Homo sapiens: one gene and its partners. The protein of the gene in region 2 purifies or fractionates together with the protein of the main gene of each other region. This does not show direct contact. Each region holds a gene or a part of one and is shown on either strand. Other genes may lie near its edges. The genes, in order: BDH1, SLC15A1 and TAMM41.

The links.
Region 1: the proteins of SLC15A1 (region 2) and BDH1 purify together in Homo sapiens (affinity purification with mass spectrometry; 2 studies listed by BioGRID and IntAct, with this or other methods). This does not show direct contact.
Region 3: the proteins of SLC15A1 (region 2) and TAMM41 purify together in Homo sapiens (affinity purification with mass spectrometry; 2 studies listed by BioGRID and IntAct, with this or other methods). This does not show direct contact.

Annotation. Positions count from the first base shown.
Region 1 is NC_000003.12:197,545,958-197,549,608, reverse strand, and holds part of BDH1 (D-beta-hydroxybutyrate dehydrogenase, mitochondrial precursor), read left to right. Parts: intron 1-3,122; 5' UTR 3,123-3,165; coding exon 3,166-3,248; intron 3,249-3,651.
Region 2 is NC_000013.11:98,742,538-98,746,188, forward strand, and holds part of SLC15A1 (solute carrier family 15 member 1), read right to left. Parts: intron 1-3,651. UniProt on the Homo sapiens protein: Electrogenic proton-coupled amino-acid transporter that transports oligopeptides of 2 to 4 amino acids with a preference for dipeptides. Transports neutral and monovalently charged peptides with a proton to peptide stoichiometry of 1:1 or 2:1.
Region 3 is NC_000003.12:11,808,856-11,812,506, reverse strand, and holds part of TAMM41 (phosphatidate cytidylyltransferase, mitochondrial isoform a precursor), read left to right. Parts: intron 1-1,609; coding exon of another isoform or gene 1,610-1,731; intron 1,732-2,824; coding exon 2,825-2,990; exon of another isoform or gene 2,991-3,651. UniProt on the Homo sapiens protein: Catalyzes the conversion of phosphatidic acid (PA) to CDP-diacylglycerol (CDP-DAG), an essential intermediate in the synthesis of phosphatidylglycerol, cardiolipin and phosphatidylinositol.

The DNA of each region.
Region 1 (3,651 bases), on a different chromosome or scaffold from region 2:
GAGTGGCAAGGGCCCATGTAGGCTTCATGTCCAGAAACACCTGAGTTCTCTTTCCTGCCTTGTGTGACCCGGTTTGCTGCGGATACCTTGCCTCTGCTGAGAATGTTAGTACTGGGAATGCCTGCCCCTTTGAGGGGAGCCCCTGCTGCTGCCTCACAGGAAAGCCCCCAGCTGTGACCTCTGCAAGATGGTCATGTTGGAATGGAACACAGTGAGCCCAGCAGTGAGGAAGGATGCGCACGCTGTTTTCTTTTTTTCTGGAGTAGGAGTGCTTTCCATGTGTTATACCTTGACAGTGGAGCGGGCCCTTGAGAGAAGCCCCAAGTGTTTCTAGCATTAAAAAATGTCTCCAAGATTCCAGGTTGATATGTGAGCATCGTGATTTTGTGACAGTATCTTATGAGTTTGGTCCCTGGGAGTCAAGCCCCCTGTGCTCAGTCACCTCAGGGCAACTAATTACTTGACTTTCAAGGCTGAGGAGACTGAGCACCCGCCTCCCACAGCCATTTCTGTTCCCAAACTAAAAGGCAAGAAAGTGGTGTGTGAAGTTTGAGAACTTAATATTTACAGAGAATAAGGCCTGGCACAAAACATGAAGATGGCAGACAGCTACCCTGAAGAGTCTTTGGGAGCCCTGCAGTGGAAATAGCTGCATGTTTAAGAAACACGCATGCAACAGACTACATTGAGAACAGTGCATTGTTCAAGGGACTGAGTTTTTTGTGTTTTTTTTGTTTTTTTTTGTTATTTTTGTTTTTGAGACGGAGCCTTGCTCTGTCACCCAGGCTGGAGTGCAGTGGCGTGATCTCAGCTCACTGCAACCTCCGCCTCCTGGGTTCAAGCGATTCTCCTGCCCCAGCCTCCCGAGTAGCTGGGACTGTGGGCGCCCGCCACCACGCCTGGCTATTTTTTGTATTTTTAGTAGAGACAGGGTTTCACCATGTCAGCCAGGCTGGTCTCGAACTCATGACCTCAGGTGATCCACCTGCCTCAGCCTCCCAAAGTGCTGGGATTACAGGCGTGAGCCACCACGCCTGGCCAAGGGACTGAGTTTTTATGCACTTTTAATTATTTTGGCTTTAGTACTTTTAGATATGGCTGACTTCAAGGAAAACAAAATGGAAAGCAGCTGTCTATTTGGAGATCATATTAAAGCATTTTCTGCCACAGGCATTGAGCTAAGGGGTGGAAAGGACTTTAATTATAGATGACTGGATGGGAAGTTTCCCAGTGATGGTGACCTCAGACTCTGGTCCTGGGTCTTGGAGGGAGGAGGTAGAGATGTGTGTGCTTAGCCAGCTGGTCAGTACTTAGATGGTGGGAGGGGGTGCCTCATGAAAAAGTCTGAGCCAACGTGGGCCTGTGCCTTCCATAAAACCATAAAAAGCCAGTCTGGGCTCCATTCTGCTGCTCTCTGCAAGGAGCTTTCCATGGAAACTTCTTTTGTGGCCACAGGCCGACTTTCCACCCCCAGACTGCCCTGCGGGAGCCCGCTCAGCTCCCATCCACTCCCCAGGGACTCAGAGTGCCTCCTTTGCGTCAGGCTCGTTCTAGGCACTGAGGATTTGGTGGTGAACCAGGTGGAGAGGATTCCTGGTGTCACTGAGCTTAGGATCTAGTAGAAGATAAAGTAAATAAACATAATTTTGAATTAAGGTAGCTGCTATGAGAGTGATCTTACAGAGAGCAACCTGTGTGTTGAATGGGAGCCACTTTAGTGAGGGAGACAGAGGACTCAGCATCCAGGATGAGGGCAGAGCAGGAGCCGGTACTCTGAGGCAGGAACGCCCTCACGTGGGCAAGGAGTTCTTGGAGTCAGTGGTGGCTGCGACGCAGTGAGCAAAGAGGAGGGTGGCCCAGTGAGCTAGGGGCCTCCAGGGAGGGAGAGGCCAGCCCCCACGGGCATGGAAAGTTGGCTTTAAACACGGAAGTCGCATAGCTTGACCGGTGTTAAAAAGGTTTCTTGGGCTGCTGTGCTGAGAATGGGGGTGTGGCAAATAGGGGCAGGAGTACAAGCGAGAGTTTACTGTAGTTCTGGAAAGGTAACACCAGAGAGGTTTCTGCCTGCTTTCCTTTCCTGAGGATTAAACAGATTAAACGCCTCCACCTGCTTCCAGCAGAGTGCATGGCAGTGGTTGCTCAGTTAACACTGCTGACCTCTGGGCCCAGGTGGCTGGTTATCAGTAAGGTTTGGGGTGGCAGCAAACAGGCAGGGGAGGAGCCTCCCAGGCAGTACCTTATTACCAGGAACAGTATGACAGACTACAGCCAGGTAGGCAAAGGAGAGGCTGGAACCCATTTACCAGCCCGCCTTCCTTCCCTTAGGCCTGGAGGAATCACTATTAACAGAACAGGAGGGCAACGCATGCCCGTGCTGATCAGCGGTCAATAATGCTGAAGAGTCGTGGTGCCTAGCAGCCTTAAGGTGTTACCAAGAGATTCTTGTTGCAATAAGGTTGCTTTAACCTCAAATGGTGAGGGAGCGGGGAGGGTGTGTGTGTGTGTGTTAATTACAAGAGTCTCTTATTTGGCAGCTCCAAACTCTATGCTATAATGAATTACTGATTAATTCAGCCTCAGAGCCAGAGCCCCCTTGTTTGTTCGCATGGGGGAAAGAGGTGGACGGCTGAGTCAGATGCTATGTGGCATGAGGACAAGCTGCCTGCAGGGGCAGGTGGGCACCTCAGGAATGAAGGCTGATGCCCTGGGGCACCACAGGTGGGTGTTTCAGCAGGTTAGAGGAATAGGACTTACCGAGTCAGAATCCCTGAGGGGTTAGGTCCCCGAGTCTCCCAGTGGTTGGCGGGTTTGAGGATCACTGATCTGGGCCAACCTGCTCACATTATGAATGGGTGATGACTTGCCCAGGGTTGCCCAGTGTGTTTGGTGGCACAGCTAGAGCCAGAACCCAGGCTTCCAGGCACCCTGGCTCCTGACTCTTTCCATTGTGAAGCTGCAGCTTGAGAGAGGAACCAGAGTGGACTACCTGGTGGTACCAGGACTGGAGCTGGGTGGAACAGATGCAGCCCAGTTTGACTTTCACAACCTGAAAGGAACATGACTGCTCCTGATTAAAGCCCGGAAGGCAACAAAGTAATGCTGAGGGTGCATTTATGTTTCAGAACCACCGGGAGGAACTGGGCCATTCTAACACCCGTTGCTACCATGCTGGCCACCCGCCTCTCCAGACCCCTGTCACGGCTCCCAGGAAAAACCCTAAGTGCCTGTGATAGAGAAAATGGAGCAAGGTAAGCAACCAGAGGTGGTGGTGGCCTTGAGGGGACACTTTCTGAGCAGGCAGAGGTTTTCACACATGGACAGTGTAGGCGGTGATGAGGCCTGATTCTCAGAGATGTCTCTCAATACCTTTGTCTCCCAGCAGAGGAAACTCAGAGGTGTCCTGGGAAGACATTTTCCCAGGGCACACAGGGCAGAAAGGAATATCTTTCATAACCACTTATTTTTTTTTCTTTTTGATGGAGTCTCACTCTGTTGCCAGGCTGGAGTGCAGTGGCGTGATCTCGGCTCACTGCCACCTCCGCCTCCTGGGTTCAAGTGATTCTCCCACGTCAGCCTCCTGAGTAGCTGGGATTACAGGCACCTGCCACCATGCCCAGCTAATTTTTATATTTTTAGTAGAGACGGGGTTTC
Region 2 (3,651 bases):
GGAAATGTGGCCTTTCACAGTTCTGGAGGCCGGAAGTCTGAGATGGAGGTCGGCAGGGTTGGGTCCTTCAGAGGACGCAAGGGAGAATCTGTCCTGGGCCTGTCTCCTGGTGCTTTGAGGCCCAGCTTTGGTGTTCCCCGTCTTGTAAGAACATCACCTCCACCTCTGCCACCATACTCACGTGGCGCTTGCCCTGTGTATGAGTCTATGTCCAAATCTCCTCTTTTTACTCATTTTTATTATTGTTGCTATTTTTGAGATAAGGTCTCACTCTGTTGCCCAGGCTGCAGTGCAGTGGCACGATCATAGCTCACTGCAGCCTTGAACTCCTGGGCTCAAGGGATCCTCCCGCCTGAGCCTCTTGGGCAGCTGGGACCACAGGCGTGTGCAGCCATGTCGGCTAAGTTTTAAAATTTTTGTAGAGACAAGGTCTGCTATGTTACCCAGGCTGGTCTCAAACTTCTTGTCTCAAGTGATCCTCCCACCTGGGCCTCCCAAAGTGCTGAGATTACGGGCACGAGCCACCATGTCCAGTCCAGATTTCCTCTTTTTGTGAGGACACTGCTCATATTGAATTAGGGGCCACCCTACCCTGGTATGACGTCATCATAGTGAATTACATCTGCAACGACTCTATTCCCAAATAAGGTCACGCTCCAAGGTATTGGGGCTTTGGGCTTCAACATATGCATTTTGGGGGATAAATAATTTGCCCACAATAGTCACAACTTACTGATTTAGGTTCAGATATCCTCCTAGCTTTTAAAAAGGTTTCCACACACAACTATCTAAAATCATAGGCTGAAGAGGCCTGAAATGACCAACCTCTCGTGGTTTTATAAATTACCTACAACTTTCAGCATCTTGTTCCTGTAACTACAGGCATGAATCTTTGAACGCCATTCCTGTCCTCCTTCAGGAAGAAATGATCTCTCTGGGACCCAGGATCCAGCCACCTTTGGACATGCTGACAGACAGTTGATTTCCAACCTGCTCTCAGCTTCAGGGAAAGGTGAGCCAGACCACAGAGTGCTCCAGGGTTCACATGCAGCAAAGCTGTTTGGCAAAACAGGAAAGATCTCAGGACAGTCCTAAGTCCTGCCTCAGGTAGAGGCCGGGTAGTCAGGTGAGATGATTTTCCTGGCTGTTAGTACAGCAACCCTTGCTCTCCAAGTTAGCTTCCTGATCTACACCTGGATATTTTTAGTCTAGAAGAACACCTTTCCTTCAGAACTAAGAGTGAGACTCTCTTTAAATGCCAGACTGCCGAGGGTAAATAAACAAATATATGCTCAGGTTAAAGAGAAGAGAGACCCTTCCTCAGAGCAGACTCTAGAAGGAGAAAAGAGGAGAGAACACAAAGGGAAGCAGATACCAGCCTCCGGGACAGCATCAGCTCCCCACACCCAGCAGGCAACAGAAACGGTGGCCCTAATAATATTGTATATTGTCACAGGAGAAAATGACTCTAAAGATACATAAATGTCGCTAAATTAAAAGGAAACAAGCCTGGGCAATGTGGCAAGACCCCACCTCTACAAAAAATAACAAAAATTAGCCAGGCATAGTGGCACGTGCCTGTAGTCCCAGCTACTTGGGAGGCTCAGGCAGGAGGATTGCTTAAGCCAGGGAGGTCAAGGCTGCAGTGACCTGTGATTGTGTCACTGCACTCCAGCCTAGGTGACAGAGTGAGACTCTGTCTCAAAAAAAAAAAAAAAAAAAAAAAGAACCAATCTCTTGGTCTTTTGGAGGGTTGTTTTTCAAGGCAATGAGGTTGAAGACCCTAACTTATACACACACAGACTTTTTTTTTTTTTAATGGTAAATCATGACTAGAAAAAAATGCTTTACAATCATGGTTAAGTATGACGTTAGGGTATAAAACAGAATGCAAGTTTTCTGCCCACATGATAGATTAAAAGTAATGGCAAAGCCGGGTGCGGTGGCTCACGCCTGTAATCCCAGCACTTTGGGAGGCCGAGGCGGGCAGATCATGAGGTTAGGAAATCAAGATCAGCCTGGCCAAGGTAGCAAAACCCCCTCTCTACACAAGATACAAAAATTAGCCGGGCGTGGTGGCATGTGCCTGTAATCCCAGCTACTCGGGAGGCTGAGGCAGGAGAATCATTTGAACCTGGGAGGCAGAGGTTGCAGTGAGCCGAGATCGCGCCACTGCACTCCAGCCTGGGCGACAGAGCAAGATTCCATCTCAAAAAAAAAAAAAAAAAAAAAAAAGGCAAAAACCGCAATTACTTTTGCACCAACCTAATATTTGGGTTGCACATGGCTCTTTCCTATCATAAGAATATCTGTAAGAAAGTTCTAGACATAGAATGCTGTTAAAATATTGTGTGTATTTTAAATTTCATTAGATATTCTCTAACAATTCTCCATAAAAATGTCAGGTGACTTATTTTTTTCAGTCTTCTAATTTTAGAATTAGCATGCATAGCAGAAACAGCTATATTTTTCAAAAACCAGAAAAGTGAAACACTGCACATGAAGACTGCCTGGAAACTTTATCTGCAGGTCCACAGTACCGCATCAACAGAATGGGAACGTCGTTTTTAGAACTAGAGGTAAATCGCCTGTGTCTCCTAGATCACTTTGGGGCCTGTTTTCTACGTACCAACTCTCTTACTAAGTGGACCGTTTACAGTTGACCAGAAACTATGACCAGAAAACCCATCTGTCTTGCTGGGGGAAGGAACTGGTCACCAGACATAGCATCCGAGCTGAGGACCATGGTGGAGTTATCTTTACACTACAAATGTTTTCTACCTAAAGTCATCTATAAGCCATGGACATAGTTCAGAGAGAATACTTTCTGTTACCATGTCGGGGTGTCGAATAGTGTCCTGCCCATCCCCCCACAAATTCACATCCTTCTCAATCTCAGAACTTGACCTTATTTGGAAATAGGATCATTACAGCTGTAATTAGCTAAGACCAGGTCATACTGGGACAAGGCGGTCCCTCATCCAATGTGAGTAGAGTGCTCCTAAGAAGAGGAAAAGTGACACAGAGACAGATGGGCTGGCAGAGACGGCAGGGGTGTGTCCGCAAGCCAAGGAATGCCAAAGACCACCAGCCACACCAGAAGCAAGAGAAAGGCCTGGATCGGCTTCACCCCCAGAGCCTTCGGAGGGAGTGTGGCCCTGCTGACCCCTTGACTCTGGGCTCCCAGCCTCCAGGACTGTGAGAGAAGACTTTTCTGTTGTTTCAAATTCCCCAGTTTGTGGTGCTTTTGTTACAGACACCATAGCAAACAAGTACACCATGTGAGTTTAGGTGTCTTGATGTATTTTTGTTTTTTTTTTAACTTGTAACATTATTTATTTACCATTTTAACTTCGATTTTAGGGGTACATGTGCAGGTTTGTTATATAGGTAACTCGTGACTCAGGGTTTTGATGCTCAGATTATTTTTCCACCTAGGTACTAAGCCTAATACCTAATAGTTGGTTTTTTCCAAACAGCTCTCTCCTCCTACCCTCTACCCTCAAGTAGGCCCCAGTATGTGTTGTTCCCCTCTGTGTCTTTGTGTTCTCATCATTTCGCTGCTGCTTATACGTGGGAAAATGCAGTGTTTGATTTTCTGTTCCTGTTAGTTTGCTGAGGATAATGGCCTCCGGCTCCATCCATGTTCCT
Region 3 (3,651 bases), on a different chromosome or scaffold from region 2:
GGAATGACGATAAGCAAGGTCACTTCTCTTTCTACCCTTGGTCCCCAGGCCCATGTCTTCTGCCAGTTGGGAATATAGTACAGCGTAATGGTGATTGATTCAGGATGTGTAGCACAACTCATCCTCGCAGGACAGTGTCTTCAGGCTGTGCCACTGCTCTGAGTTGACACATAAAATTATCTGCCTTACCCTTGCATCTTTTAGGTCTACAGGTGGTGCTCATCTCTGCCATTCGTCCTGGGATATGGTTTTATTTTTTCTTTACTCTTTTGGCCAGGGGGAGAGAATGGCAGCTTCATGCCTTTAATCCCAGCACTTTGGGAGGCTGAGGTGGGTGGATCAGTTGAGGCCAGGAGTTCAAAACTAGCCTGGCCAACATGGTGAAACCCCATCTCTACTAAAAATACAAAAATTAGCCAGGCATGGTGGTGTGCGCCTGTAATCCCAGCTACTCGGGAGGCTGAGGCATGAGAATCACTTGAGCCTAGGAGATGGAGGTTGCAGCGAGCTGAGATCGCGCCACTGCACTCCAGCCTGGGCAACAGAGCGAGACTCTGTCTCAAAAATAATAATAACAAAATATTAGCTTTATTGATGAATACCTCATACACCATAAAAGCTAGTGTTTATAGTATAGTCACAGAGCTGCACAGCCATCACCACAATGTAATTTTAGAATATTTCTGTCACTCCATACCCTTTAGCCGTCCCCAGCTCTCCCCTCACCCAGGCAACCACTAATCCACTTCTGTCTCTGTAATTTTTCTGTTCTGGACAGTTCATATGCATGGAATCATATAAAGTTTTTTCCATATCTGCTTTTTTCTTAAGTTGACATATAATAATTGTATCCATGTCCGCTTTTAAAATGCAATTTGACTTTCACAGTTTAGCTGAATGCTTTCACTTTCGTTATTTTAATGAGAGTTAGTGTAAGGAAAATGAGAATTTACCAAATTTTTAAATCATGTCACCTGGTATTTTATCTTTACACTCATGCTTTCAAGTGAAAATTCCAGTGCATTATTTTCCTCAAGAGAAAGCAGTGGCAGATAAGTACTTTCTAATTTTTTTATATGTCACTCAAGCCGTTGGAAGCTTCATAGGTAAAGCATAACTTAAATATAAGTTTATTCTAACTAATCCCAATATGTGGCCTCAAAACATAAGTCCATAAATGTCATTTCTAAGATTATTTTACATAAATACTCAAATTTGTTGTCATTTTTGTAGCCAAAGCTAAGTAGAGGATGGGGCCTGTGAATTTAGAACCATCCTAGTGATAAATATCAAATATTTAGATAAAAACCTAAATATTTACCCCTCTAGCTTTATGGAGCCATTAAATAATAACATTTTTCTCCTTCTCTTCATAGAGTTTATAGACAAAACTAGAAAATTCAGGTATTTGGTATATACTTTTTTGTTTTTTTTGATACCATCTTGGTCTTGTCACCCAGGCTGTAGTGCAGTGGCACAATCACCACTCATCGTAGCCTCAACTTCCCAGGCTCAAGTGATCCTCCCACCTCAGCCTCCCAAGTAGACAGAACTGTAGGCTTGCACCACCATGTCTGGCTTTTTTTTGTTTTCTTTTTTTTTTTCGTAGAGCCGGATATCTCACTCTTTTGCTAGGGCTGATGTTGAATTTTTGTGCTCAAGCAATTCTCCTGCCTCAGCCTCCCAAACTGTTGGGATTACAGGTGTGAACCTGTGCTCCTGGCCCATTTGGTATGTACTTAATAAATATTTATTCAATTTAAAAAATGGTAGAATGAGTGGATTCTAATTATTAAGAAAGTTCGTCCTATCTGTAAACTCTAAGCCTAAAATGTAATACATTGATCTGATTTTTTCTTACTCTTCTCTTAGTTGAAGTTAAAACCTAAATATTTGTTAAAAGGATACAAGACAGATTCTTCCTTGGGAAATAATGTGATGGGCTGTTGAGGGCAGTGTTACTGGTTCTGCACTTGGCAGGAAATCAATGTTTACAAGATTTTTAAAAATTCATTCCACGAGGCACAGTGTATGAAACTTGGAGTTAGGAAAGCTAGGTCTGGCCTCAGCTCTGTGGCTAACTTTTGATTCAAGGGTTTCTGAGTAAAGTCTGACACATAGTTTTACATGTTTTATTTATATATTTATCTTCAGCACCTTAGTATGTTTTAGAATACTTTGGGAACCGAAGCCGCTGGCATAGTAGCTTTAGGACAACTAAGTTGTATTGATTCAGTTACTCATTTCCTTATTGTTTTTTGAGTACCTACTGTGTGCTGGGGATTAAAAGTAAGTAAGATTAGTTTCTGTCATCAGTGTATTCCTACAGTTTGTGAAATACAGCATACTAAAAGGCCCTACAGGCAGGAGACACAATTCAGATCCCACTTACTCTCATTGGTGATGTGATCAGGGCACGCCAGTCTCCCTGTGTTTGAAATGGGAGGGGTCATCTCAGTGCCTGGATTTGACGCGGCCTCCACGAGTGTCAACTGCAGCACCACTTCCTTTGACTGCTGGATTTAAGACAAATATAAATTTTAAAACCAAAAGTCAGAAATTGATCCTTGAGAGTGGCTTCTATTCTTTTCTCAGGTAGAAATGGAATATTATAGGACAAGAATTGTCCTTTTTGAAGGGACTTAGACTCCTGAACACTTACCCATTCAGTTTCAGAAAAAGAGAGTTTCCTTAGCTTGCTGCCTCGCCAGGGGTGTGGGTGCATATATGTTTGTGTGATTTTTAAAGAGAAGCCCTGAGTTTTGGAGTATTTGTAGGATTTAAAGCACTTCCATAGACGTCGTCTTTTTTTTCCTCCCTTCAGATAGATAAAAGCCCAGAAGGACAGTTCACTCAGCTGATGACATTGCCCAAAACCTTACAGCAACAGATAAATCATATTATGGACCCTCCTGGAAAAAACAGAGATGTGGAAGAAACTTTATTCCAAGTGGCTCATGATCCCGACTGTGGAGATGTGGTGCGACTAGGTACGTTTATGAATTTGATGTTGAGGAAATGCCAGCCATGGGGAAAAGCAGACTTTGTTTGTGATTGGAATGTATTATTTCTTCCTTTTTGTTTAGCGAGATAGAGAGATTGCCTCTCAGAAGAAGAAAGCACTAAAAATTTGAGGGTTTTCTAAATCTGCATTTTTATTTGTTTGAAGTAAGATGGTGAAAATACTTCTGTTTTTAAATTCCTGGATCCTAAATCACTGTCAAAGGGAGAAACAATGTTTCTTTTGGTTCCTAGAGCACAACTTCTAGAATTTATTTAAAAGATGTGTCTGTGTTTTGTGGTGGTCTGAGAAAAGAGATTGGTGGCATTTTTTTGTGCTTTTATAACATCGAGAACACAGCTTTCCTCAATCAACTCCATTTGATGTGTCTCATACATTGTTGAGTACATTCCCTCAGACATGGCCCACGTTCCACAGCATTTTCCCCAGCACTGCCCTGATGTTTATCCAAAACTCTGAACCCAGGCCAGGTGCAGTGGCTCACGCCTGTACTCCCAACACTTTAGGAAGTCCAGGAGGGAGAATCACTTGAGGCCAGGAGTTTGAGACCAGCTTGGGCAACAGAGCAAGACCCTGTCTCTGCAAAAATTACAAAAGTAGCTGGGCATGGTGGCACATGCCTATAATCT